Linked DNA regions of Homo sapiens. The protein of the gene in region 2 purifies or fractionates together with the protein of the main gene of each other region. This does not show direct contact. Each region holds a gene or a part of one and is shown on either strand. Other genes may lie near its edges.

What was found.
Region 1: the proteins of OR10H1 (region 2) and TSPAN3 purify together in Homo sapiens (affinity purification with mass spectrometry; one large-scale study listed by BioGRID and IntAct). This does not show direct contact.
Region 3: the proteins of OR10H1 (region 2) and LRP12 purify together in Homo sapiens (affinity purification with mass spectrometry; one large-scale study listed by BioGRID and IntAct). This does not show direct contact.
Region 4: the proteins of OR10H1 (region 2) and NDFIP1 purify together in Homo sapiens (affinity purification with mass spectrometry; one large-scale study listed by BioGRID and IntAct). This does not show direct contact.
Region 5: the proteins of OR10H1 (region 2) and NPC1 purify together in Homo sapiens (affinity purification with mass spectrometry; one large-scale study listed by BioGRID and IntAct). This does not show direct contact.
Region 6: the proteins of OR10H1 (region 2) and ANO6 purify together in Homo sapiens (affinity purification with mass spectrometry; one large-scale study listed by BioGRID and IntAct). This does not show direct contact.
Region 7: the proteins of OR10H1 (region 2) and LRRC8E purify together in Homo sapiens (affinity purification with mass spectrometry; one large-scale study listed by BioGRID and IntAct). This does not show direct contact.

Annotation. Positions count from the first base shown.
Region 1 is NC_000015.10:77,054,110-77,057,609, forward strand, and holds part of TSPAN3 (tetraspanin-3), read right to left. Parts: intron 2,147-3,500; coding exon 1,955-2,146; intron 1,755-1,954; coding exon 1,680-1,754; intron 171-1,679; coding exon 69-170; intron 1-68. UniProt on the Homo sapiens protein: Regulates the proliferation and migration of oligodendrocytes, a process essential for normal myelination and repair.
Region 2 is NC_000019.10:15,805,665-15,809,164, forward strand, and holds part of OR10H1 (olfactory receptor 10H1), read right to left. Parts: intron 3,178-3,500; 5' UTR 3,061-3,177; intron 2,385-3,060; 5' UTR 2,374-2,384; coding exon 1,417-2,373; 3' UTR 1-1,416. UniProt on the Homo sapiens protein: Odorant receptor.
Region 3 is NC_000008.11:104,579,259-104,582,758, forward strand, and holds part of LRP12 (low-density lipoprotein receptor-related protein 12 isoform a precursor), read right to left. Parts: intron 1-3,500. UniProt on the Homo sapiens protein: Probable receptor, which may be involved in the internalization of lipophilic molecules and/or signal transduction. May act as a tumor suppressor.
Region 4 is NC_000005.10:142,129,279-142,132,778, forward strand, and holds part of NDFIP1 (NEDD4 family-interacting protein 1), read left to right. Parts: intron 1-2,529; coding exon 2,530-2,617; intron 2,618-2,933; coding exon 2,934-3,064; intron 3,065-3,500. UniProt on the Homo sapiens protein: Activates HECT domain-containing E3 ubiquitin-protein ligases, including NEDD4 and ITCH, and consequently modulates the stability of their targets. As a result, controls many cellular processes.
Region 5 is NC_000018.10:23,538,007-23,541,506, forward strand, and holds part of NPC1 (NPC intracellular cholesterol transporter 1 precursor), read right to left. Parts: intron 3,428-3,500; coding exon 3,300-3,427; intron 3,203-3,299; coding exon 3,062-3,202; intron 2,532-3,061; coding exon 2,442-2,531; intron 1,996-2,441; coding exon 1,805-1,995; intron 1,465-1,804; coding exon 1,349-1,464; intron 666-1,348; coding exon 536-665; intron 1-535. UniProt on the Homo sapiens protein: Intracellular cholesterol transporter which acts in concert with NPC2 and plays an important role in the egress of cholesterol from the endosomal/lysosomal compartment.
Region 6 is NC_000012.12:45,348,595-45,352,094, reverse strand, and holds part of ANO6 (anoctamin-6), read right to left. Parts: coding exon 3,464-3,500; intron 1,437-3,463; coding exon 1,321-1,436; intron 1-1,320. UniProt on the Homo sapiens protein: Small-conductance calcium-activated nonselective cation (SCAN) channel which acts as a regulator of phospholipid scrambling in platelets and osteoblasts.
Region 7 is NC_000019.10:7,895,010-7,898,509, reverse strand, and holds part of LRRC8E (volume-regulated anion channel subunit LRRC8E), read right to left. Parts: exon of another isoform or gene 3,171-3,500; intron 2,912-3,170; 5' UTR 2,907-2,911; coding exon 2,769-2,906; intron 1-2,768. UniProt on the Homo sapiens protein: Non-essential component of the volume-regulated anion channel (VRAC, also named VSOAC channel), an anion channel required to maintain a constant cell volume in response to extracellular or intracellular osmotic changes.

The DNA.
Region 1 (3,500 bases), on a different chromosome or scaffold from region 2:
GCAGTTAGTTTAATGTTGACCCAATCGTGATTGGTCCTCAAAAACAAATCTGCCTCAAGAAAGCTCACCTGTCTCTGTACATAATCAATAGCCCGGCTAGCAGCATCAGGGTTGGTTCCATTGTAGGTCTTATACACTTTCTGAATGCTGCGATCAACCTCATTTTCCACCTGAATCAGAACAAAGAATTCAGTCCCTCAAAAATACTAGTAAAAGTAACATTAGTCAAGGCTCCTACTAAAATACTTAAATGAAATGTTTGCAAGTTGCCAGATATCTATGAATTTCCTGTAAAGTTTTCTCCCTTCCTGCCTTCATCTTCATATAGATATAGATGAAGGCAGGAGGGAGAAAAGTGACAGGTAAAAATTCAGACATATACCACATACATTCAAGCATTCAAAGAGAAGATTGTGTGCAAAATGGCAGGCTAACAATGTATTCAAAAGGGAGAAAAGTTGAGGCTTGGGATAGATGTCCTAAATTATAAATGGATGCCTTCCTTTTACAAATAAGTTACTCATTTTCCTTTCCTAAAGGAGGTAAAACAAAGTAACTCTGAAGCTCCTGTAAGATACTTTTAGGACAAATGCCAACATTATTTCCATTTTATTTATTCAACGTTTAGAGTTGGCTAAATGTGCAAAAGTAATCGGCAGGTTTAAAAAAATCAGTCCTTAGAAATGGCACTTTATGAAAAAGCTACTGTTCAATGTATTGCAAAAAGGAGACAGGAAACAAGCTTCATAGCTTATTGCTGCCAATTACTAAAATGGCAAGCAAGTATCACTTAGTAAAGTTTGCTTGTACCAGATCCTCCTTACCCCTCGGAGGACTGGACTTATCTGGTAATTACAACAGTAATATCATAAGTCCATAAAATTGATAACCAGATCATAGGTAGGGACATAATCCATTGCATTTTTTTTTTAGCACAGCTTTACAGTACCTTACGTATCAATGATCTGAAAATTAACTTGGCATATTATGCCCTTGACTCAAAACCATTAAGTTATAATGAGAATGAGTCTATTATGTCTTTACCATGCCTCTAAAATTATACCCATATTAATTAATTTAAAGCAGCCTGTTTAGCCTTAAGTAGTACTACAGGTAGACAGCAAAATCAGGCAAAATAGAAAGGAAGGAACGGTGAAATGATTAAAAAGAATGAAGGGCAAGAAAGGAGTGCTGGCACCAGCTGCCTTGGTGTTCTAAGTTGGCAGGACCCCTTGTTCCTCAGGACAGGGGTGGAAGGTGGGATCACAACTCACAACACCTTTTTCTATGTTTAGGACCAAAGCATTTTTTAAAGAGACAATGGAAAACGCAATTCTGAGTTTGGTTCTTCTAAAGCAGAAATCAGAAAATTATGCCTCCCCTCATATAGGCAATCTGTGTGCTGAGGAAATCTGAACAAACTTCTCAGCTAATTATTCATTTGCAGCTATAAATACCTATAATCAAGAACAATACATATATAACACTCTGCTATATTAAATGAGGTAAGGAGTCTTGACATGTAAATATTTGCCAATTAACTTTAGATATTTGAAATACAGATTAAACAAGTAAGGCAAAAGAAAATGTTTACTCTGATAAAATGAATGTGTTCTATTTTACTTGAAACACTTAAACCACCTTTTAAGGCATTATGTGAATTACAGTAGACAACATACCTTTGCTCTGTAAACATATCCCAAAACCACTACAACAACTTCTGTGACAAAAACCAAGAGCAGGATGATGACAAACTGTAAGAAAACATGGTTTAAAATTATATACAAATGAAAAAATAACTTTAAATACACTCTTGATTTAAAAAAAGTTATCAGAGATAATTGCTAGAAGTTTAAATGTTAACTCTGTTCCAACTATAAGAGCCAAGGAGTCTCATGTTCAAGGAGAGTAGCATAGACTAAATACTCCTGCATGTTCTCACAACACATCTTACCGTGGCAAGTCCACAGCGACTTTCCCGGATTGTGGCACAGCAGCCAATTAGCCCAATGATGAAAAGCAGGGCTCCTACAGCTATGATCACTACAGCAGGGATGAGCGTGTACACATCTTCAAAGAAGTGGTCATAGTCATCATAAGTGATGAAGACATAGGCTCCCACATAGCATAAAATGCCAGCTGCCCCCTGTAGAAAACAAAGTCAGTACTGGTCTCTAAGCACTGCTGGTAAAAATTTCCTATTATTGCTTAGTATGGTATAATTTAATGAGAGTTACCGTAACTGTTATAGACTTTTTTCAGTAAAGCTGAAAATTCTATGATTCCTTGTTAAGAGCATTTCTATACTAGATAAAATTAAAAAGTTATCCACACTTCACCTACTTTTCACGAATTGATGGTTCAGCTAGGACCAAGAAACCATAACCAAATAATAACAATGATGATGACACACACCTACACATCCCTAAAGGCTTACTGTAGCTCAATTCCACATCCAATACGGATCAGTATGGTGGTAGGGGGATCTTTGCTCACTACAGTTGCCCTCAATAAGTGGGGAAATTTGGTAGAAATGACAGAGCTTGGATTTGAACTCAGGCAATCTGACTCCAGAATCTACACTTCTAATCTCTATCTACCCCACCTCAAGGAAAAGAAAATACACCAACTAGTAAGCATGATACCCACCCCACTTCCAAAAATCTTGCTGTCCTAGAGACAGTGAAATGGCAAAGCTAGAGGGCTCAGTCATTAAAGAACACTGCAAGTCCTCTATCAATTCTTTAGAATGGTGGTTCTCAAACTTTGAAGTGAATAGGAATTGCCTGAGGATCTGAATAACAAGCAGATTGATTCAGGAGGTCTGAGGAGGAGCCTGAGAGTCTGCATTTCTAACAAGTTCCCAGGTGATGCTGGTGCAGCTTCTTCTTGGAGCGCACTCTGAGTAACAAGGTATTAAAGACCTAAAGGGAAAGTGAACACACAAAGACAAGTGATAGGTGTGTCTTATTTCAGCTGCTGCTCCAGGCATCATTCTCCAGCTGCAGAGTCTTACTTTCTCCGCTATTGTCAATTTTGCTATCTTTGGGTACCAGCTCTGTGCTGACAGCCCAATGCCACTGGCTCATATACAAACAAGCAAATGCAGTGTCAGAGTAAGTGTTAAAACATTTGGTTATCACTTGGATAACAATGAGTTATCATTTGTAGAGTACTTTGAAACTTTCACAAGAAGTATTTCATCATCCTTTAAAATTTAACATATAAATCATCTTCAAACTAGAAACAGCTGCCACAGTGATACTGGAAATATCATTAACTTCTCTGAACCTGAAAACCCAGATCATTTAAGTTTATGAAATTCAGTAAGCTTGGGGATCATCAGTATATTTTTTTACACTAGGCCATTAGGATCACTGTCAGATGAGGAAGAAAAAGACTCCATTTATGTAAATTTGGGAAAGTAATTTGATTTTTTAAAATGTAACATGAACTTTTTAAAGTGAGAAGACAACTAGAATAATGAAGGCAATTTTTAA
Region 2 (3,500 bases):
CTTGAACTCCTGACCTCAGGGGATCCACCCACCTTGGCCTCCCAAAGTGCTGGGATTACAGGCATGAGCCACTGCGCCTGGCCATGAGATAAACTCATCCTGGGGTCTACACTCAATGTCCAGATTCAACAGAGAGCTCCTGGCTGGCCCATGAGCCGTGTCAACTTCTAACACAGCATTCGGTATCTCACAGTGTGACTTTTTTCCTTGATCCAACCATGAAGACATCTCAGTCTCTCCACAACTATTCAAGACTCACACTTGAAATTCTAAGGTTTCCTTGATGTTTAAAGAGAGTCTGTTTATTGCTATTTCTAACTTCTATTGCATAGATCTGTGCAATGCTGAAATTTAGGGTACTTTTCTCTCCTCTGCTATAATCTGGAGTAGCCTTACAAAATCTGAGTTGTAGCTACCTGGTGCGGCACTCATAGAGAGTGGGGCATGAAATCTTCCCTCTCTCTTTGCATTGCTGGTTTGCATTATTGGGGGTATTAGATGACCCTGGCTTTTGGCAAGAGGAGTCTAGATGGAGGTTTGGTGCTAACTGACACAGTTTCTTGCAGCAGATAGAAATAATCAAACCTGGTTTTCTCTGTGTTAGTATCTCACACACACTTCCACTCCAAATACATCCCTGATGCTGATTAACCTTTGTGTTTATAATTGTATGTCGTCTACAAGGTCCCTTGTAAACCTTAAAGCATGACAAATAGAGGTTACTATATGTTCATGGATTGTCTTTCTTTTAGGGGGGAAGGGATAGGGTCTCACTCTGTCATCCATGCTAGACTGCAGTGGCACAGTCATAGTTCACTGTAAGCTCAAACTTCTGGACTTAGGCAGTAATCCCAGTTCAGTCTCCCAGGTAGCTGGGACTACAGGCATGTACCACCATGCCAAGCTATTTTTTTCTAAGTTTTTGTAGATATGCAGTCTTGCTATGTTGTCAAGTCTAGTCTTGAACTCCTGGCCTCAAGCAATCCTCCTGCCTTGGCATCCCAAGGTGCTGGAATTATAAGTGTGAGCCACAGTGCTTGGCTGGAACGTAATTTTCTTTTTTTCTTTCTTTCTTTCTTCTTTGAGACAGTCTCACTCTGTCGCCCAGGCTGGAGTGCAGTGGTGTGATCTCAGCTCACTGCAACCTCCACCTACCGGGTCAAGCGATTCTTATGCCTCAGCCTCCCAAGTAGCTAGGGTTACAGGCATGTGCCAACATGCCTGGCTAATTTTTGTATTTTTAGTAGAGATGGGGTTTCGCCATGTTAGCCATGCTGGTCTCAAACTCCTGACCTCAGGTGATCCGCCTGCCTCGGCCTCCCAAAGTGCTGGGATTACAGGCATGAGTCACCACGGAACGTAATTTTTAACAATAGCCTTCGGTAATCCAATTTAGTTGTTCCCAGTGAATTTCTCCTACATCATTACATTTTTTTCTGGGTAGAGTTTACTGAAGAAGGTCTTCTTCATGGCGACCTTCAGCTCCTTGTTCCTGAGGCTGAAGATGATGGGGCTGAGGAAGGGTGTGAGGACCGTGTAGGTGATGCCCATCAAGGTGTCTCCTTCCAGAGACTGGGGACTTTTGGGCTTCAGGTAAATGACGGAGGCAAAGCCATAGTGCACGACCACCACAGTGAGGTGAGAGGCACAGGTGGAGAAGGCCTTGTTCCGACCTTCAGCAGAAGGGATCTTCAAGATGGCGGCCACGATGAAGGCATAGGAGAGGAGGATGAGGAGAAAACAGCCCAGCAGGGCCGTGATACACACCAAGCCCACGCCTTTGGCCACCACCAGCACATCGTCTCCACAGGCCAACTTCAACAGAGGTGGCACATGGCAAGCAAAATGGTGGATCTCCTTGTGTCCACAGAAGGCGAGGTGGAAAATGGCCGAGGTCACCACCATCCCCATGACCAAGCCACCAGCCCAGGAGCAGCCCACCAGGCAGGCGCAGCCCCGCGGGCTCATGAGCACGTTGTAGCGCAGGGGGTGGCAGATGGCCACGTAGCGGTCGTAGCCCATGACGGTGAGCAGGAAGGAGTGGGTGAAGCCGAAGCTGAAGGAGAAGAACATCTGACTGGCACAGGCCAGGAAGGCGATGGAGCGCTGGGTGGACAGCAGGTCGGCCAGCATGCGCGGGATGATGGCCACGGTGTAGAGGATCTCGGAGACGGAGAGGGCGCACAGGAAGAGGTACATGGGCGTGTGGAGGCTGCGCTCGCTCCAGACGGTGGCCATGATGAGCAGGTTGCCCAGCAGCGTGAACAGGTACATCAGCAGGAACAGCAGGAAGAGCATCAGCTGGAGGTGGGGGAAGACAGAGAAGCCGACGAGGATGAATTGGGTCACTGTGGAGTGATTGGCTCTCTGCATGGAGGCTGTGCCTGGGGTGAGATGTGACAGGGAGATGTCAGTTACTGCATGAAGAAAAGTTCTCAGCCTTCCCCATACCTGGATTTGCCCAAGGGACTGCTCTTGATAAATGGTTTGGTTCCATTCCCACTCTGTACCTCCTATAATTTAATACTCTCGTCAACCTAGTGAGAACGGTACTATTTTTTCAACCCCCTTTTGAAGTACCTTGAGCATAGTCATTGAGAATATTGAAATGTAGAGCTTGCTCAAGGCCAAGCTGTTGAAACGGTAGATCAGAGACTGGAACCCATAGCTGGGCTGGCTCTAAAACCTGTACCCTTCACTATTTCTCTATGTTGCCCCCTGCCCCCAAACGAAAATGCTCCAGGCTGGCATGGTGGTTCACATCTGTAATCCCAGCACTTTGGAGGCTAAGGGGGAAGGACGGCTTGAGCCCAAGAGTTTGAGGTTGCAGCAAGCTATGATGGCACCACTGTACTCCAGCCTGGGTGACAGAGCTAGACTCTATCTCTTAAAGAAAGAAGAAAATGGCCGGGCACGGTGGCTCACGCCTATAATCCCAACACTTTGGGAGGCTGAGGCAGGCGGATCACGAGGTCAAGAGATGGAGGCCAGCCTGGCCAAAATGGTGAAACCCCATCTCTACTAAAAATATAAAAATTAGTCGGGCATGGTGGCACGCACCTGTAGTCCCAGCTCTTCGGGAGGCAGAGACAGGAGAATCTCTTGAACCTGGGAGGCGGAGGTTGCAGTAAGCCGAGATGGCGCCACTGGACTCCACCCTGGCGACAGAGCGAGTCTCTGTCTCAAAAAAAAAAAAAATAAATAAATAAAAAGAAGAAGAAGAAAAACATATTCCTTTGCTGGAACTTCCATTCATTCCTTCTCTGCCCTCCTACTCCCTTCTGATAAATCACGTTCATCCCCCAGCTCCAGGTATCATGAGACGTTCCCACCCATGGCTGCAACTCCTTGGAACAGGGCGCGTCTCTAAATCTGAACCAACCAGACTTCCTCTGGGGTTATCCATGTAGGAAAGCAGAGGCAGGAGACTGTGTTGCTCTAAGGAAGGAGCCAGAAATCATGCTTTGGTTGTTTTCCAGCTCCCATGAGGTATGCCTCTA
Region 3 (3,500 bases), on a different chromosome or scaffold from region 2:
TATCACTAACATTCCTATACACCAACAACAGTCAAGCTGAAGCCAAATCAGGAATGTAATTCCATTCACAACTGCCATAAAAAGAATAAAATACCCAGGAACACAGCTAACCAGGGAGGTGAAAGATCTCTAGAAGGAGAACTATAAAACTACGCTTACAGAAATCAGAAATGACACAAACAAATGAAAAAACATTCTATGTTTATGGGTAAGAAGAATCAATACTGTTAAAATGGCCATACTGCCCAAACCAATTTACAGATTCAATGCTATTCCTATTAAATGACCATTGACATTCTTCACAGAACTAGAAGAAACTATTTTAAAATTCATATAGAACCAAAAAAGAGCCCAAATAGCAGAGGTAATCCTAAGCAAACAGAAGAAAGCTGAAGAAATCATGCTACCCAACTTCAAACTACACTACAGGTCTACAGTAACCAAAACTGCATGGTACTCGTACAAAAACAGACACATAGACCAATGGAACACAATAGAGAACCCAGAAATAAGGCAGCACATCTACAACTAACTGATCTTCAACAAACTTGACAAAAATGAGCCATAGGAAAAGGATTCCTTATTCAATAAATGGTGCTGGGGTAACCGGCTAGTCATATGCAGAGGACTGAAACTGGACCCCTCCTTACACCATATACAAAAATTAACTCAAGACGGATTGAAGACTTAAATATAAAACCCAAAACTATAAAAACCCTGGAAGACAAGCTAGGCAATACCATTCTAGACACAAAAATAGGCAAAGATCTCAGGATAAAGATGCCAAAAGCAATTGCAACAAATGCAAAAATTGACAAATGGAATCTAATTAAACTGACGAGCTTCTGTCCAGCAAAGGAAACGGTCAACAGAGTGAATAGGCTACCTACAGAATGGGAGAAAATTTTTGCAAACTACGCATCTGACAAAGATTCATAATTTGCAAAATATCCAGCATCTATTAAGAACTAATCTAGGCTGGGTGCGGTGGCTCACGCCTGTAATCCCAGCACTTTGGGAGGCCCAGGCAGGTGGATCACGAGGTCAGGAGATTGAGACCATCAGGACTAACACAGTGAAACCCTGTCTCTACTAAAAATAAAAAAAAAAAAAAAAAAAAAATTAGCCGGGCATGGTGGTGGGTGCTTGTAGTCCCAGCTACTCGGGAGGCTGAGGCAGGAGAATGGCATGAACCCGCGAGGCGGGGCTTGCAGAGAGCCAAGATTGTGCCACTGCACTCCAGCCTGGGCGACAGAGCAAGACTCCGTTTCAAAAAAAAAACAAAACAAACAAACAAAAAATTAATCTAAATCTATAAAGAACTTAAAACACATTTACAAGAAAAAAACCCATTGAAAACTGGGTAAAGGACATGAACACTTTTCAAAAAAAGACATACATACAGCCAACAATCATATGAAATATAGCTCAACATCACCAATCAGAGAAATGCAAATCAAAACCACAATGAGATACCATCTCACACCAGTCAGAATGGCTAATTATTAAAAGGTCAAAAAAATAACAAATGCTTGCGAGGTTGTGGTGAAAAAGGAATGCTTGTACACTGTTGGGAGAAGTGTAATTAGTTCAATCATTGTGGAAGACAACGTGGCGACTCCTCAAAGACCTAAAAACAGAAATATCATTGACCCAGCAATCCCATTACTGGGAATACACCCAAAGGAATATAAATTGTTCTATTATAAAGACACATGCATGTGTTATGTTCCTTGTAGCACTGATTCACAATAACAAAGACATGGAATTAACCTAAATGCCCATCAATGACAGACTGGATAAAGAAAACGTGGTACACATATACCATAGAATACTATGTAGTCATAAAAAAGAACAAGAACATGTCCTTTACAGGAACTTGGATGGAGGTGGGGGCCATTATCCTTAGCAAACAAATGCAGGAACAGAAAACCAAATGCTGCATGTTCTCACTTATAAGTGGGAGCTAAATGATGAGAACACATGGACACATAGAGGAAGGGGAACAACACATACTGGGGCCTGTCAGAAGGTGGCGGGTGGGACAAAGGAGAGGATCAGAAAAAATAACTACTGGGTACTATATACGATATGATGTACAGATATCACTAGATATGATGTAACATATCACTAGGTGATGAAATAATCTGTACAACAAACAGATTAATAATTATGTACAACAAACCCCCATGTAATAATTGTGTACAACAAACCCCCATGACACAAGTTTACTTATATAACAAACCTGCACATGTACTCCTGAACTTAAAAGTGAAAAAAAAAAAACTAGCCAGATCATGAAAGCTCTGCTGAGTTTAATTTATATTTTAAGAACAGGGAACTGCTGTTGGGTTTTAAGCAAGAAAGTTACATTATCAGATCTGTACTTTAGATAAGTCACTCTGGCTACTGCTAAGTGTGATATGATTCAATCAGGACAAGACTAGAGCTAAGACTAGTTGGTGGCTGTTACAATAATGTAGACAAAAAAAAAATAATGGGCCTCTACACGAAGAGCACAGCAGTAGACAGACATGAACCTTAGGCAAAACTACTATTCTCAAAGCTTCAGTTTCTTCTAATAATACCTACCTCACACAATGATTTTGAGAATTAATCATGGCATTTTTTGTATAGGTGTTCTGTATTCTCTTAGCAAAACTTTCACAAGCAATAATAATTTCACGAAACAATTCTACTTCAAAATATATCAGATACAAAGATTATTCTTATGTTTTCTCCAATATATGTAAAAAGATGCCTTAACTATTAATGAAATTAAGTCAGATTATGAAAGGTTTACTCACTTATATTTGAAAAAGTAAATTCCAACTACTAAACATCCTATTGTGCTCCATTTAATCCTAATATTAAAAGATTGGCATCATTTTTAATTTCTCTAAAAACTGAAATGTAAGTGAATTAAAGGTAGGTATCAAGTTAGTCTCACTCAATGACAAAACATGAGCATAAAACAATTTCACATCTTCACCAAACTGATACCAGCAAGTAAATGAGTTATTAACTATTTAAGAGGAAAACTAGAAAACTCTTTTGTCAGTTTTATTTACTTTGAAGTTTTGGGACCTACTAAAGTTATATCTTCTGTAAAGCTACACAATAAAAAAAAAAGATAAAAGCTCAATTTTTCCAAATCTGCTCTGAAATTCACCAATCTTTTAATACATTCTTGCCTCTACCAAAGACAATCTGATTTCTAAAGCAATCTTTATTGATAGCTTAGCAGAAAGCATTTAACTTTGGCAAAAAGGTATTGGAAATCCAGCTTTTGCTCCACCCTTTGCTTCTTGCCTGAAATACACTTAAAACATTGTAAAAAGTTATGTTCTATACTTATTTCATTGACAAAATGACTGCCCTCAGAACTGAGTTCTCCACAGAACCCTTCTTAAGGTTCCTCCCCTTGTAATTTAAGTCCATCTCTTCCTGTCATCTGCTGTACAACTATTCATAATATATGTGCTTGTATAGTGTTCATA
Region 4 (3,500 bases), on a different chromosome or scaffold from region 2:
CAAATAATGTTAAAACCAGTATTTTAGGTGAACCATGGTCCCAAGAACTCTATTTAAGTAATTCCTAGTTCGGTGTCCCAGGAGCATTTGGCTTTACTGCACCTATTTTGGCCACATGTCTTTGTTTAAAAGGAAAAATTATCTTAGGTTATAATACAGCTATTTTGGGAGTACCTTAAGTTTAACATTAGATTACTAGGATTCGAAAAAATGTACCCAGATGGTAGATGCTGATGAGAATTTGACACAAGAATTCATTTGAAATTGAAGCTTTTGTAGTATTAGTCAGAAAAATTTATTGACATCTGGTTTTGAACAGCATAGTGAGTGGAGATTGAGATGATCAGTTAAAATTTAATGGATTGTGGCCGGGCACAATGGCTCACGCCTGTAATTCCAGCACTTTGGGAGGCTAAGGCAGGCATATCACCTGAGGTCGGGAGTTTGAGACGAGCCTGGCCCACGTCTACTAAAAATACAAAAATTAGCCAGGTCTGGTGGCATACGCCTGTAGTCCCAGCTACTTGGAGTCTGAGGCAACAGAATTGCTTGAACCTGGGAGGTGGAGGTTTCAGTGAGCCGAGATCCCACCATTGCTCTCCAGCCTGGGCAACAAAAGCGAAACTACATCTCAAAAAAAAAAAAAAAAAAAGAAAGAAAGAAAATTTAATGGATTATGGAGCTCTACTTCACATTAGTACACCTCGGTCTCTCTGTTTTTCTGTCTCAATTCAAGATAGAGTTCTTTGTAGCGGTATGGTTTAGAGGTGGTATGTATTTTACAAGTATGTCAGTTGGCTCTGTATATCCTGATGATACCGAAGCCAGGACCAGACCCCTACGTCAGTTATATCACTAAATATTCTGTTATTAATTTTCAGATTGGCTCCTAGTCCCAGCCAACTCATGTTTTAAATTAATATAGTTCATTGTCACACTGGACTGGAAAAACCAAATGAAATGTCTTTATTCTATGAAGATGACTTGTGTAGACTATACAGACTAGCAACAGCAGACACTTTCAGTGCGAGTTATTTTAAAAAATTGAAGATTTGACTGGCAGAAAAGTTGCTGAGATAGGGAAAAGGGATATCTATTGACAGATATATGTAGAATTAGGGAGAATTTTATGTTTTCATAAGTGTCTCAATTATTTAAGATTTAATTTGGTGTGCATGTGGAATATAATGGTAACATGGTTTGTCTGTGATTTGTCTTTTGTCTTAACAGATTATTTTTCTAACTTTAAAAAAGTATACATCACTTGAGGCCAGGAGTTTTAAACCAGTCTGGGCAACACAGGAAGACCCCATCTCTACAAAACATAAATTTTAAAAAAAGTTAGCCAGGGTCACAGTGTGCCATAATTGTGCCACTGCACTCCTGCCTGGACAACAAGAGTGAGATCCTGTCTCTCCAAAAAAAAAAAAGTATGCAAGTGATAAATATTCACTACAAAATATTTGAACATGCAGATACACAACAAAAAGGAAAAATTCCCCTGTACTCCTATTACCTAGAAATAACAGTGTTGAACTGTAAATGTCTCATTCTAGGCCTCCTTTCCATTATATGTCTGCCTTTTTAAAAAGGATTATATGATGCCTATTGTTTGGCAAGTTTAGCTTTTTTCATGTAATAATAGTACACTGTAAATATCTATTTGAGTAATGAAATTTAATTTTTTTTTTTTTAAAGACATGGTCTCTCTCATGCCCCAGGCTGGAGGGCAGTGGCACAATCTTAGCTCGCTGCAGCCACGACCTCCTGGGTTCAAGCCATCCTGCTGCCTCAGCCTCCTGAGTAGCTAGAACCACAGGTGCATGCCACCACTCCCGGGTAATTTTTGTATTTTTTGTAGAGACAGGGTTTGTTTTGCCATGTTGCCCAGGCTAGTCTTGAACTCCTAAACTCTCCTAATCTCAAGCGATCCCACCCACCTAGGCCTCCCAGAGTGCTAGGATTACAGGTGTGAGCCACCATGCCTGGCTGAAATTTAATGTATATTTTTTTTGACACAGAGTTTCACTCTGTTGCCCAGGCTGGAGTGCAGTGGCACCATCTCAGCTCACTGCAACCTCCGCCTCCCGGGTTAAAACGATTCTTGTGCCTCAGCCTCCTGAGCAGCTGGGACTATAGGAGTGTGCCACCATGCCTGGCTAATTTTTGTATTTTTAGTAGAGATTGGGTTTTGCCATGTTGGCCAGGATGGCAAAATTTAATTTTTAATGGCCGTTTAGTAGTCCTTTGTGTGATGTACTATAATTTATTTGTCTCCTATGATTGGAATTTAGGTTGTTTCTAATTTTTGCTGACACAACACTTATATGTACCCATTTTGCCTCTTTGAATATTTCCATAGAATAACTTCCTGGGAGTAGAATACTTTTCTTAAAGGATTTGTGCATTTCAAGGCTTTCAAAATACGTTGCCAAATAGCTTTCGAGAAAGGCTATTTATTTCAGTTTTTGGGTTCTTATCTTTCTAATTGGCTTTATGCTTACATTAAAATATGAAATTTTTATTTAGTTGCAGAATGAAGAAGAGTCTGGAGAACCTGAACAGGCTGCAGGTGATGCTCCTCCACCTTACAGCAGCATTTCTGCAGAGAGCGCAGGTAGGTAACAGGGCAAGGTGATCACGGAATCCTTAAAAACACTCTGTGCTTTGACATTACAGTTTAAAAAAAAAAAAGCTTCAGAAGCAGTTGGAAGAAAGGTTACAAAGCAAGTCTGGATTTTAAATAATTGAGAAGTGGATACATTTAAAAATCACCCCCAGTCTCTTACATTCATCTAAGAATGTCTTTTGGTTCAATTGTTATGTATGTACTCTTAAGGGAATGGCTGGGTTTTGTCTGCTAGAGTTAGTGGAACTCCTTTTATTTCAATTCAGCTAATCATCAAAAAATTGTGACTGTTAAAATTCTGCAGCATATTTTGACTACAAGGATGAGTCTGGGTTTCCAAAGCCCCCATCTTACAATGTAGCTACAACACTGCCCAGTTATGATGAAGCGGAGAGGACCAAGGCTGAAGCTACTATCCCTTTGGTTCCTGGGAGAGTGAGTATAATTTGCCATGTTACTTGATGGCTGCTCTGTGGGAATTAAGTTATTTTCATTATCCAATTTTGATTCGTTACTTATGATTGTATTGATTAGTGAAAGTAGAGCTAATTTTAAAAATCAGGTACATTTGCTTTTGGGATAATAAACTCATCTCTTCTTAAAAATGATGAGGTAAATTACTAGTCAGACCTGCTCATTTTTCCTTCATCTCTCCTATTACCACTACTTTTTCAAGTCTCCTGGGATGGCTGAAGTATCTTGAAGCAGAAGCACACTAATGTTTCCTTGATTCTGCACACTTAATATTTTGCTGTTGGGTGGATAGCTGCTAGGGAGGTCTAGGAAGAGAATAAATATATGCAAATTTGTAGAATTAAACTCATAAGAGGGATCTTCACATTGATTTAGATGAACTCCGTTCTTCCAGCAG
Region 5 (3,500 bases), on a different chromosome or scaffold from region 2:
CTATTTTTGGGCCATATATCTGGCTTCCGTGGGTAACTGGCTGCCTGGCTGGATGGGGGAGTGAGATAGCCCATAACCCTATACATGGATGGGCTGGCAAGGAGCATGACGAGGCTAAAAGAATCGCAACCTTAATGTGGGATAATGTTACTAAAGCTAAGATCACGCCCCAGCTGCCATCAGTACAAGTGAACAGGCCAAGTTCCTTCAGGCCTGGATTACCAGCAGGCCGTCCTCTCCCTCAGCCCCGCTTGGAATGTGCACAGGAATCTGCGTTCATTCTCATGCCCAGGGGGCCAGGACACAGAGAGAGCATGAGATGTGAATGCCCACGCTAAGACAGAATCAGTTGAACACTATGAGGCATTTTCTTAAAAAGGTGTTTTCGGTTTTCCTGCTTCCACCAAAGGACCAGGACAGGGTGGGGCGGAGAAGAGACGTTCCCATGCAACTGTCTTAGCCCAGTCCTCTCCTAGTTTTCTACTGCAAATTAAAGTTGCAGTGGATGCTTATCTGCAATGGCAGCAGCACTTACCCTTTGCCACACTTGGGGTTAGGGTTATCCGAAAGGAACATGGGCAGGAATCTCATGAAGTCTCCCCCCTGAGGCCTCTGTTTGCCTTCCGGAGTCAGAGGCCTGCAGCGAACGCAGGCAGGGTCAACCACTGGCGGAGACATGCAGGGAGGACTGTTAGAAGAATAGGTCTCCAGATTTTTTGTAAAACATTTTAAAATACTGACAGTGAGGGGCATTACTTTCTTCTCTATCGATTACTTTCCTTACTAGTGAGGGATAATCTTTCCCCTTATCTAAAAGCTTCAGCCACATGTCACTTTCACAGTTTAATGAATCTGAAATACCATTTTCATCTTAGGCATACTATGCATCATTTTCTGCCCTGAAGTAGATCTCCTCCTTCAAGTATGGCCTTGACTGGTCAGAGCCCGGGGCTTCTATGTTTTTATTAAGAAAATTCCAGGGCAACCTCGACGCTCCTACAAAACCACAGGGTAAAGTGATAAAGAAAAGCCCTCCTCTGAGAAGCTAAGGCCAGATACCAATCCTGAGAGGCAATCGCTGGAGTTAGAACAGGATGAGAAACCTTATGTGGAAACCACACTCCGAACATGTGGACCTTGTTCAGCTTGCAGCCCCGAGGGTGGCTGTCTGAGCCAGGAACAACATGACAATTTCAGAATGAATGACTGAGGAAAGGAATGATGACACAGGGAGACCCAGCTTTGATATACAAATAGGTATAAACTGAGGCACGATGCAAATGATTTTTAAATGATAATTTGAAAATTTTTCAGCAAAACAGGAAAGATTTGGTAAAGGAGAAGGTACCTGAAGCATTGCAGAACTGGTCAGTGATATTGTCCACTCGACAGCAAGACGACTGTGGCTTCACCCAGTCGAAATAATCGTCGATCCAGGACGAGGGGGCGAAGCCTATTCGGGTACTAGAGAGGACAGACAGGGTTACTGACCTGCTCCACAGGGAGGAAGTCTTTAGTTTCAGTACTTTTTCTTAAAACCTAACTTCCTTTTCTACGTTTTATACTGCTAACAGTCAAAAGAAAAACTACATGAGCACTTAATGAAAAAAGCCTTCAAAGTATTAGGTGGTAAATTAGTCCTTTCAAAGGTTTTTTAAGGTAAAGCCAGATTTAACATACATTTTGCATAAAAACAACTTTTCCAAGAAAGTCTATTTTCAGTGAGACATTTCAGGCCTGAGCTGACTGCCTGGCTGAGAGCCTCCTCCGCTGCTTCTGAAGTACAAGACAAGGTGGTACTGACTAGTTGTCCAGCTGCGCCGCGTTAAATATCTGCTGCACCAGGGAATCATTGTTGCAGCCCATGCCGCCGCACACCATGTTCTGCCCCTTGGAAGAAGTGTAGTCGTGCCCTTCCTCCAGGACAAAGTACACAGGCGGACCCGCATGCAGGTACTGACTGATGGATTTGAAATAATCCACCATGTAGGAGTCCTGAAAGAAAGATAAAAGAATAGGAGAGAGTGTGAACACTCTGATAGTAACTAAGCAAGGCGAGGATCATGGAGAATAAGAGGGTGCCAGGAGGTTCCTGGCTGAGATGCCTCCAGCTGGACTCATGATTCCTAACACCACCAGTCTTCCCCCCAGGGCCCCAGGGTGCTCCTCCTGCTAGCCCCACAATCAGGAGAGCATCTCATAAAGTAACCTCATAAGACTAGTTATTCGTGTTCTGCAGCTGTGCCCAGAGGGGCTCAGTCAGAATGCCAGACAGCCCACACCAGCAGTGCACTGCGACAGTTCTCCTAACCCTGGAAACCCTGTCACCATTTGCAGTTAGAAGCAGGCACTTGCTTGAAACACCTACGTGCATGTTTTGAAAAATGTATTCATCATCAGCTAAAGAAGTTAAAAAAAAAAAAAAAAGGAAGTCATCTTACATCTGGCATCGAAAGAGACTGATCCAATCCAATATCTACTTTGTTCAGGACTGCGATGCTGAATGACAGAACACCCACAAATATTGCTATCTGGAACAACAAATGAATCATAAGACAGAGACTGCTTAGTAAATAAGCTTACGACCAGAAATAAAATCTTAAGCACACACAAAAAGCAGGATTTTTTAAAATGGAAAAGCTTAAATGACAGGCTAATAGGGAGTACAGGGCAGTGGGTGAGACCACAGCACCAGGAGTCCAAATTCCTGGGTGCAAATCCTGACTCTGCCACTTACGGGCTGAGTGACTTGGGGCAAACCACTTCACCTCTCTTGGCTTCTATTTCCTCATTATTAAGAGGAAAAATAAAAGTTTCTTTGCAACTTTCTGTGAATCTGAAACTATTTCAAAATAAAAAACTTAAAACTCTTGTTTATATGGACTGATAAAAGCTCACAGGAAAAACATTTTATCTACTGTTCCACATTTGCTTTTGCTTTTTTTTTAGATACATTTTAACAGCTTTAAGAATCTCCTTCCCAGGCTGTCTGGCTTCTTAGAAGGCATGTGATAATCTGTTTCAGTGAGAGGAAAGAGAAAAACCACAGATAAGCGCATACCACAATTGGTCTCATCCAGTCCTTTAGCAGAAGTGGAGAATAGGAGTTTTTGAAGAAGCGAAACAAACAGCTCTCTGAGGCCTGGACGCTTGTTCCATCTTCAGCACCTCTGACACAGCAAAAGATGTCTAGCCGATTTTTCTGAGGGGACAGAGGGAAACAAAGGTTATACCCGCTAGCTGCTTCCTCTAGATTCTAGACTCAAATTAAATAGACTATAATCCTGGCACCAACTTACCTCTTGACGTTTAATGTCTAACCCCAAGAGACTCACGAAACAGGTAATCTGCAGAAGAAAGTCAATGAAGACTGCCAATCCCGCAAAGAGAGAGAAGGTGTGCACGGCTGGCATCACGGACAATGCTCCTGTCGGGGAGAGAAGGGCTCTGCGTCACTTCTGTTTACAGCCGGGGGCTCTCTGCAGGTCTTATGTTCATGT
Region 6 (3,500 bases), on a different chromosome or scaffold from region 2:
AAAAAACAGGTACGTGGCTCCAGACAGACATGAAGTTAACTCTCCTCTCCTCGTCACTCTCCACATCCAATCCATAAACAAGTCCTGTCGACCCGACTCCCCAAACACATCCCAAATCTGCTCCCACAGTCTTCTGCCTGGCTCAAACAGCCTCCTACCTAGTGGTCTCCCTGCTCCCTGTACCCCTTATAATCCATTCTCCACATTATCTGCAAAACGTGAATAGGATACAATGACTTAAACATTTAAAATATTACAACTGCTTCTCACTGCAATTAAAGTCTAAACTCTTTTCGGCGCTCCTGCCACCCCTCTAACTTCATGTCTTGCTCTGTTTCTCACTAGCACTGGTCTCTGATGTTTCCTCAAACTTGCCAAATGTGTGTGCATCTCAGGGCCACTGTACAAGCTGCCCCTATTCCTAGAAGGACTTCTGCCAAGTCCTCAAAGCACTGGCTCCTCTTCACTATCCGATCTCAGCTTAAAAGTCACCTCCTCAAAGATAACTCCCTCAACTCACTTCCCACTCTGCCCTCCCATCCTATTGCTCTGTTATTTTCTTCACTTCCATTAGAAATTCTGTTTATTTATTTTCATGTTTTATTGGCTTGTTTGGGTGTTCTTGGTCTATCTCCCACAAGCCAGAATCCTCAGCCCTGCCCAAACAACGTAAGCTTCTGGAGGAAAACCAACAGGGTACCTTGGGAAGAAAAACTCTTGAGCTAGTCATTGTATCTTGTGAGATACAACGAAATAGAACCTAGAGGCAGACATAAGAAAAGAGTGAAAATGTACATGTCTTACCATACAATAGAAACTACATCTAACATTTACTTCTGTGCAATATGGAATTTGGTGGGTCTGCATCCCAGTTCCTGGGCGGTGGGTAACCTCTAAACCCTTGGAACTTCCTGAGAGATAGGAGTGCCTTTTTATTCACAGTGGGACCCTAGGACTACGCCTGATAGTTTATGCCAGTGAAGTGGCTCATGGTGGACCTCTAGAGAGTTTGTGCTAATGAGATGACTCAGGGTGGAGGCTGGCCATGCCAGAAGATCAACCATGTGATTGGAGAACTGGAGCTTTGAGCCACATATTACTGGCCATCTTCCAGGGGGAGGATGATACTGGAGATGGGTAATGATTCAATTAATCATGCCCACATAATTAAGCCTCAATAAAAACCCTGGCCAACGAAGCTCAGCACTCTGGGTCAGCTCCCTTCACTGGCAAGAGTCTTGATGAGTACTGTCACATTCAGATGCTGTGGGGGTAACACCCTGAGTGCCTCCCCCTGGAGTACTCCCTACAACCCCTCACCTGATAAGATCCAAGGGCTGCTTTTTGTATATGCTTCGAGGATGAGCCCATTCTCTGTACAGAAGGTACCGTTCATTAGGGCAGCTGGGATCCTCTGACTGACGGCGGAATTTGCACTGTGACGCAGAAGGGAACATGTAAGCACCATAATCATCGTGTTTTCACAAATCTGCTTCTTAAATGTGATACAAATACTTGATAGTCAATTGTGAACAAGGGGTCCTCACCTTCTGGAAAGGGTGGAAATACCATCTAATTTTTAGTGATTCTTAACCAGGCATGGTACTACCCTCCTTGGGGGTCATTTATGAATGTGGGCAGGGATGAACGATTGGGTGTTACAATCCTGGGGAGCACTGCAGGGACTCTGTGAGGGCCCCAGAGATGCTTAAAATGCTTTAAGTGGGGCAGTCCTACACAATGAAAAATTGGGCCACCCAAGTGCCCAAATCACCACACCAGAGGAACACGTGATAACCCACCCCTCTCCTTGGACAATGGGGAAACCAAGGCCTTGGCTGGTTAGCAGCAGGGTCAATTCTAAAACCTAGGCTTCTTTGCCCCCAGTTCAGCAGTTATTCTGTGATAACATACAGAAAACAAACAATAAAGCTGGGTATCATGTTACACACTTAGCTTATTCAAGAAACAAAACTTCCTGCTTAAATCCAGTTGCCTTTTTTTCTGACTCATTTTTCTTCTTCTGGCACTAGAACCAGATTACCACCCAGCCAAATCAGGGCACAGGCCCTGACCTTCACACACCTCCCTCTCAAATACCACATGGGACCATTTGTTAGCCTGAATACAGGACCACTGCAATTAGAAGAGGCTTTAGTGGAAAAGACATGGCCAAAAGCAAATGTCAACTGTTAGAGAACCCTGGCATCCCAAATTAATATTCGTGACAGCTATTTGCAAGTGGCCTCAAAATTCATGTCCTGTTATTCGCAATTAGCTAAATTCAGTGGGGCACAAAAGTAAAACACATGGACTCTCAGGCTGGATGGCTACATTGGGTCTCTTAGGATCAGTATTTACCTCACCCAGCTCCCTGTTCTCTACTTTTCCATGTGTATCAAGCTGCTGTTTAGTGTCCTAGTTTTATTATGTTATTCAGTACATTTCAATATCGTCTCTATCCACAAATACATGTACTACACAGTAGCAATTACCAATCTCAGTCTTTACTTTCTTTGGTCTTACACAGTCAGATAAATTGATAGTGAATATAACAAAGTAATAATGCAATATAATATAGTATTTAATTTATTTCAATGACAGAGTTTAAACAGCTTTAGTTATAATGTCCCTGCATTTACAGTGGTCACATTTTAAAAATTTCATTTCACGAGAGATGTTCTCGGCTAGAGAAGTACTCTTGAATTTGAGGGGTTGCTGTGGTCTCAGAATGTAGTCCTTAAAAAAATGTCAACCATCTGGGGTACTGCCATTGTCACAACAACCCTGACAGATGCCTTTTTAAAAGCCCAGGGATATTCCAGGGGACAGTTTGAAAATCGTATTCCAAATGAGGAAGAAAAGTCTATGTTGCAGAAAATGATAAATGAGAAGGTCTAACATGTATTTTGCTGACAAAGAACTAATCTTTTCTGGTTGATAATAACATCTGTTAGTAATTATGAAAACAGCTAACACTTATAATAGTATTTATTATATGCTAGGGACTAACATTTGGATTAATTTAATGGATTAATTTAATCCTCTTAACAACTCTAGGAGGTAGGTAATAATTTATCCCCAGCTTATTGATGAGGAAATGGAGGAAGAAAGGCTAAATGACTTTCACAAGGTCATCCAGCTAGAAAGTGGCAGGGCAGGCATTTTGGTCTCAGAAATGCTAACACAGATTAACTGCTAATCTATACTGCTTTACACATTAACTGTGAGAGAGGTCCTGTCCATTCATTCATTCGCTCCTTTAAAACTGAGTATCTTTATAACTGGGATCCATCTGTGAACAAAAGACCTAGTTCTTACCCTAAATGAGCTTGTAATCTTGCAGTATGTTCCCTTCATTTTACTGAGGAAGAAACTTACAGTCAGGAAAGTTAGCCCTTTGCTATTGTCAACACCAGAGTATACAGAAGGCCTTTTAGTTCATTTTTGCCTTTTAACTTACATCATGGAGTGGGAAAGCTGCCTTGTAGATCCCAGAG
Region 7 (3,500 bases), 7.9 Mb from region 2:
TGGGCACCTGTAATCCCAGCTACTCGGGAGGCTGAGGCAGGAGAATCGCTTGAACCCGGAAGATGGAGGTTGCAGTGAGCCGAGATCGCGCCATTGTACTCCAGCCTGGGTGACAGAGTGAGCCTCTGTCTCAAAAATAAATTAATTTAAAAAAGAGAGAAAATGAGGGGGATGGGGAAAAAGCAGGCTGAAGGTGGGAGACCCCCCGCACCCCCCATCTCTGACTGTTGCCAGCCAGCTGTGATTTTGGAAGAGTTTTGCTAAACCTCTAAGCACTGTTTTTTTTTTTTTTGGTTTTTTTTTTTGAGACAAGAGTCTCGCTCTGTCAGGCTGTGTGCAGTGGTGCAATCTTGGCTCATTGCAACCTTCCCCTCCTGGTTCAAGCAATTCTCCTGCCTCAGCCTGCTGAGTAGCCGGGGCTACAAGCACGCACTACCACGCCTAGCTAATTTTTGTATTTTTAGTAGAGATGGGGTTTCACCATGTTGGCCAGGCTGCTCTCGAACTCCTGGCCTCAAGTGATCCCCTGCCTCAGCTTCCCAAAGTGCTGGGATTACAGGAATGAGCCACCACAACTGACAAAGCACTGGTCTTTGTCTGAGAAAAGGAGCTGGGTTGAATCGTGTCCCCACAAAAGATGTTGAAGTCCCAACTCCGAATCCTTAGAATGTGGTATTATTTGAGCTGGGTCAGGCGGCTCCTGTTTGGTAATAGGGTCTTTGCAGAGGTAGTCAAGACAAAGCCAGTAGGGTGGGCCCAGTATGACTGCGCCTTAGAGAAAGGGGAAACATAGACACAGAGACAGACACAAAGACAGAAGATGACGTGAGGATACAGGGAGAGGCTGGGTGCGGTGGCTCAGGCTTGTAATCCCAGTGATTTGGGAGGCAGTGGGAGGGGGGGCCAAGCGGGGGTGGTAGAGGAGGATTGCTTGAGGCCAGGAGTACAAGGTTACAGTGAGCTATTATTGCGCCACTGCACTCCAGCCTAGGTGACAGAGCTTGCTTAAAAAAAAAAAAAAAAAACTGTCTCGACCAGGCGCAGTGGCTCATGCCTGTAATCCCAGCACTTTGGGAGACAGAGGCAGGCTGATCCTGATCACGAGGTCAGGAGTTCAAGACCAGCCTGGCCAACATACTGAAACCACGTCTCTACTAAAAATACAAAAAAATATTAGCCGGGCGTGGTGGCACACGCCTGTAATCCCAGCTACTTGGGAGGCTAAGCCAGGAGAATTGTTGGAACCCGGGAGGCGGAGGTTGCAGTGAGCCGAGATCGCACCACTGCATGCCAGCCTGGGCGACAGAGGGAGACTCTGTCTAAAAAAAAAAGAAAAAGAAAAAGAAAAATACTGGGAGAATGTCATCTACAAGCCAAGGAACTCTTGGAGCTGCAAAAATCTAGGAGGGAAGCTTGGAAGATTCTCCCTCACTGACAACTGACGCCTTGATCTCAGACTTCTGGCCTCCAGAACCAGACCCAGAAGAGGAAACATTTCTGGTTATTTAAGCCACTCAATCCCTGCTACTTTGTTACAACAGAAGTAACAAACTCATATAGCAACTGCAGTCCTTTCCAGATTCTAGGGATAAAACTGAGCATTGTGAAAATATGGGGCTGGACACAGTGGCTCACACCTGTAATCCCAGCACTTTGGGAGGCCGAGGTGGGAGGATGGCTTGAGGCCCGGAGTCCGAGACAAGCCTGGGCAACATAGCAAGACCCCTGTGTCAACAAGAAATTTAAAAATTAGCTGGACGTGGTGGTGTGTGCCTGTAATCCCAGCTACTCTGGAGGCTGAGGCGGGAAGATCACTTGAGTCCAGGAGTTCAAGGCTGCAGTGAGCTGTGATCATGCCACTGCACTCCAACCTGGATGACAGAATGAGACCGTGTTTCTTTATTTTAATTTTCAATTATTTTATTTTATTTTTTTTAAGATGGAGTCTCGTTCTGTCACCCAGGCTGGAGTGCAGTGGCATGATCTCGGCTCACTGCAACCTCCACCTCCCAGGTTCAAGCAATTTTCCTGCCTCAGCCTTCCAAGTAGCTGGGATTACAGGTGTCCACCACCATGCCTGGCTAATATTTGTGTCTTTAGTAAGGACGGGTTTTCACCGTGTTGGCCAGGCTGGTCTCAAACTTCTGGCCTTAAGTGATACTCCCACCTTGGCCTCCCAAAGTGCTGGGATTACAGGTGTGAGCCACCATGCCCGGCCCCTGTCTCTTTTTAGCCAAAAAGAAAAAAAAAAAAAAGAAAAAAAAAGAAAGGGTCAGGTGCAGTGCCTCAGGCCTGTAATCCCAACACTTTGGGAGGCCCAGGCAGGCAGGTCACTTGAGGTCAGGAGTTCGAGACCAGCCTGGCTAACATGGTGAAACCCCATCTCTACTAAAAAACTACCAAAATTAGCCAGGCGTGGTGGTGGGCGCCTGTAATCCCAGCTACTCAGGAGGCTGAGGCAGGAGAACCGCTTGTACCCGGGAGGCAGATGTTGCAGGGAGCTGAGATCATGCCACTGTACTCTAGCCTGGGTGACAGAGTGAGACTCCGTCTCAAAAAAGAAAAAAAGATATGGAATGGCATAGCAATGTGGGGACTCCGGTGCTCCTGGCTATGGAGGTAAGGAAGATAAGGGGTCTGGATTGGCCTTTGAGTGGGGCTCTGTCTTCAGTTTCCTCTCTTTCTTGGGTGATGAGAAGGCTTCCCGACTTCCCCAGACACCTGCCCCGCCCCTCTGGTCACACCCCCTTGCCAGGGGAGGGCCTCACCTGGAGGGTGCAGCCAAAGACCCCAATCATGAGCATGGCCACGGTGAGGTACTCGGCCAGCACGTCCCACCAGGGTTTGAGCACCTTGAACGCAGGCTGCTGTTCCGTGAACTGCTTGAACTCGGCCACTGGGATCATGCTGCCTGTGGGACGGGACGAGACGGGGGGTGTAGAGAGAGACCCTCAGGATGGGAGGCTCTGCAGGGGGTCCTCCGAGGAGCCGGACACAGGCAGGCCTGTGACCCTCCCTGCCCAAACTTGTCCAAACCACCAAAGTGTGTGCCCCCACTTCCCTCTTAGCCTGGCCTTAGTCACCCTCCATGCAGACGTCACCACCTGCCCAGAACCAAGCGGCCACTGTTCCCCTCTGGGCACCCCTGCACCTGATCTGACTTGTCTGACCTCGAAGAGCACATGAGGGATAGTCCACAGGGCCGCCGCCCTCCAGCCTCCTCGGGTGGCCCCCTCCCCAAAACGAGGCATCCCTCTCCCACCCCTGACACCAAGGCCTGAAAACATCTGCCTCGATGCTCCCTGACTGCAGACACTCAGCGTCTGGGCCAGCCCCGGCTCCCACCGCCACCAGGCCTGAAAGCGTTCCAAGGCTCAGGACTTCCGGGGCGTAGGCCCCTCCACCCCCTCCAGGGGCACTCTGGGCACCACCTCCAACCTCTAACCGGAAAAGCCGGCTGGAGCCTGGCTCTGGTTACTAGGGCCCCAGGGGCAGGGACT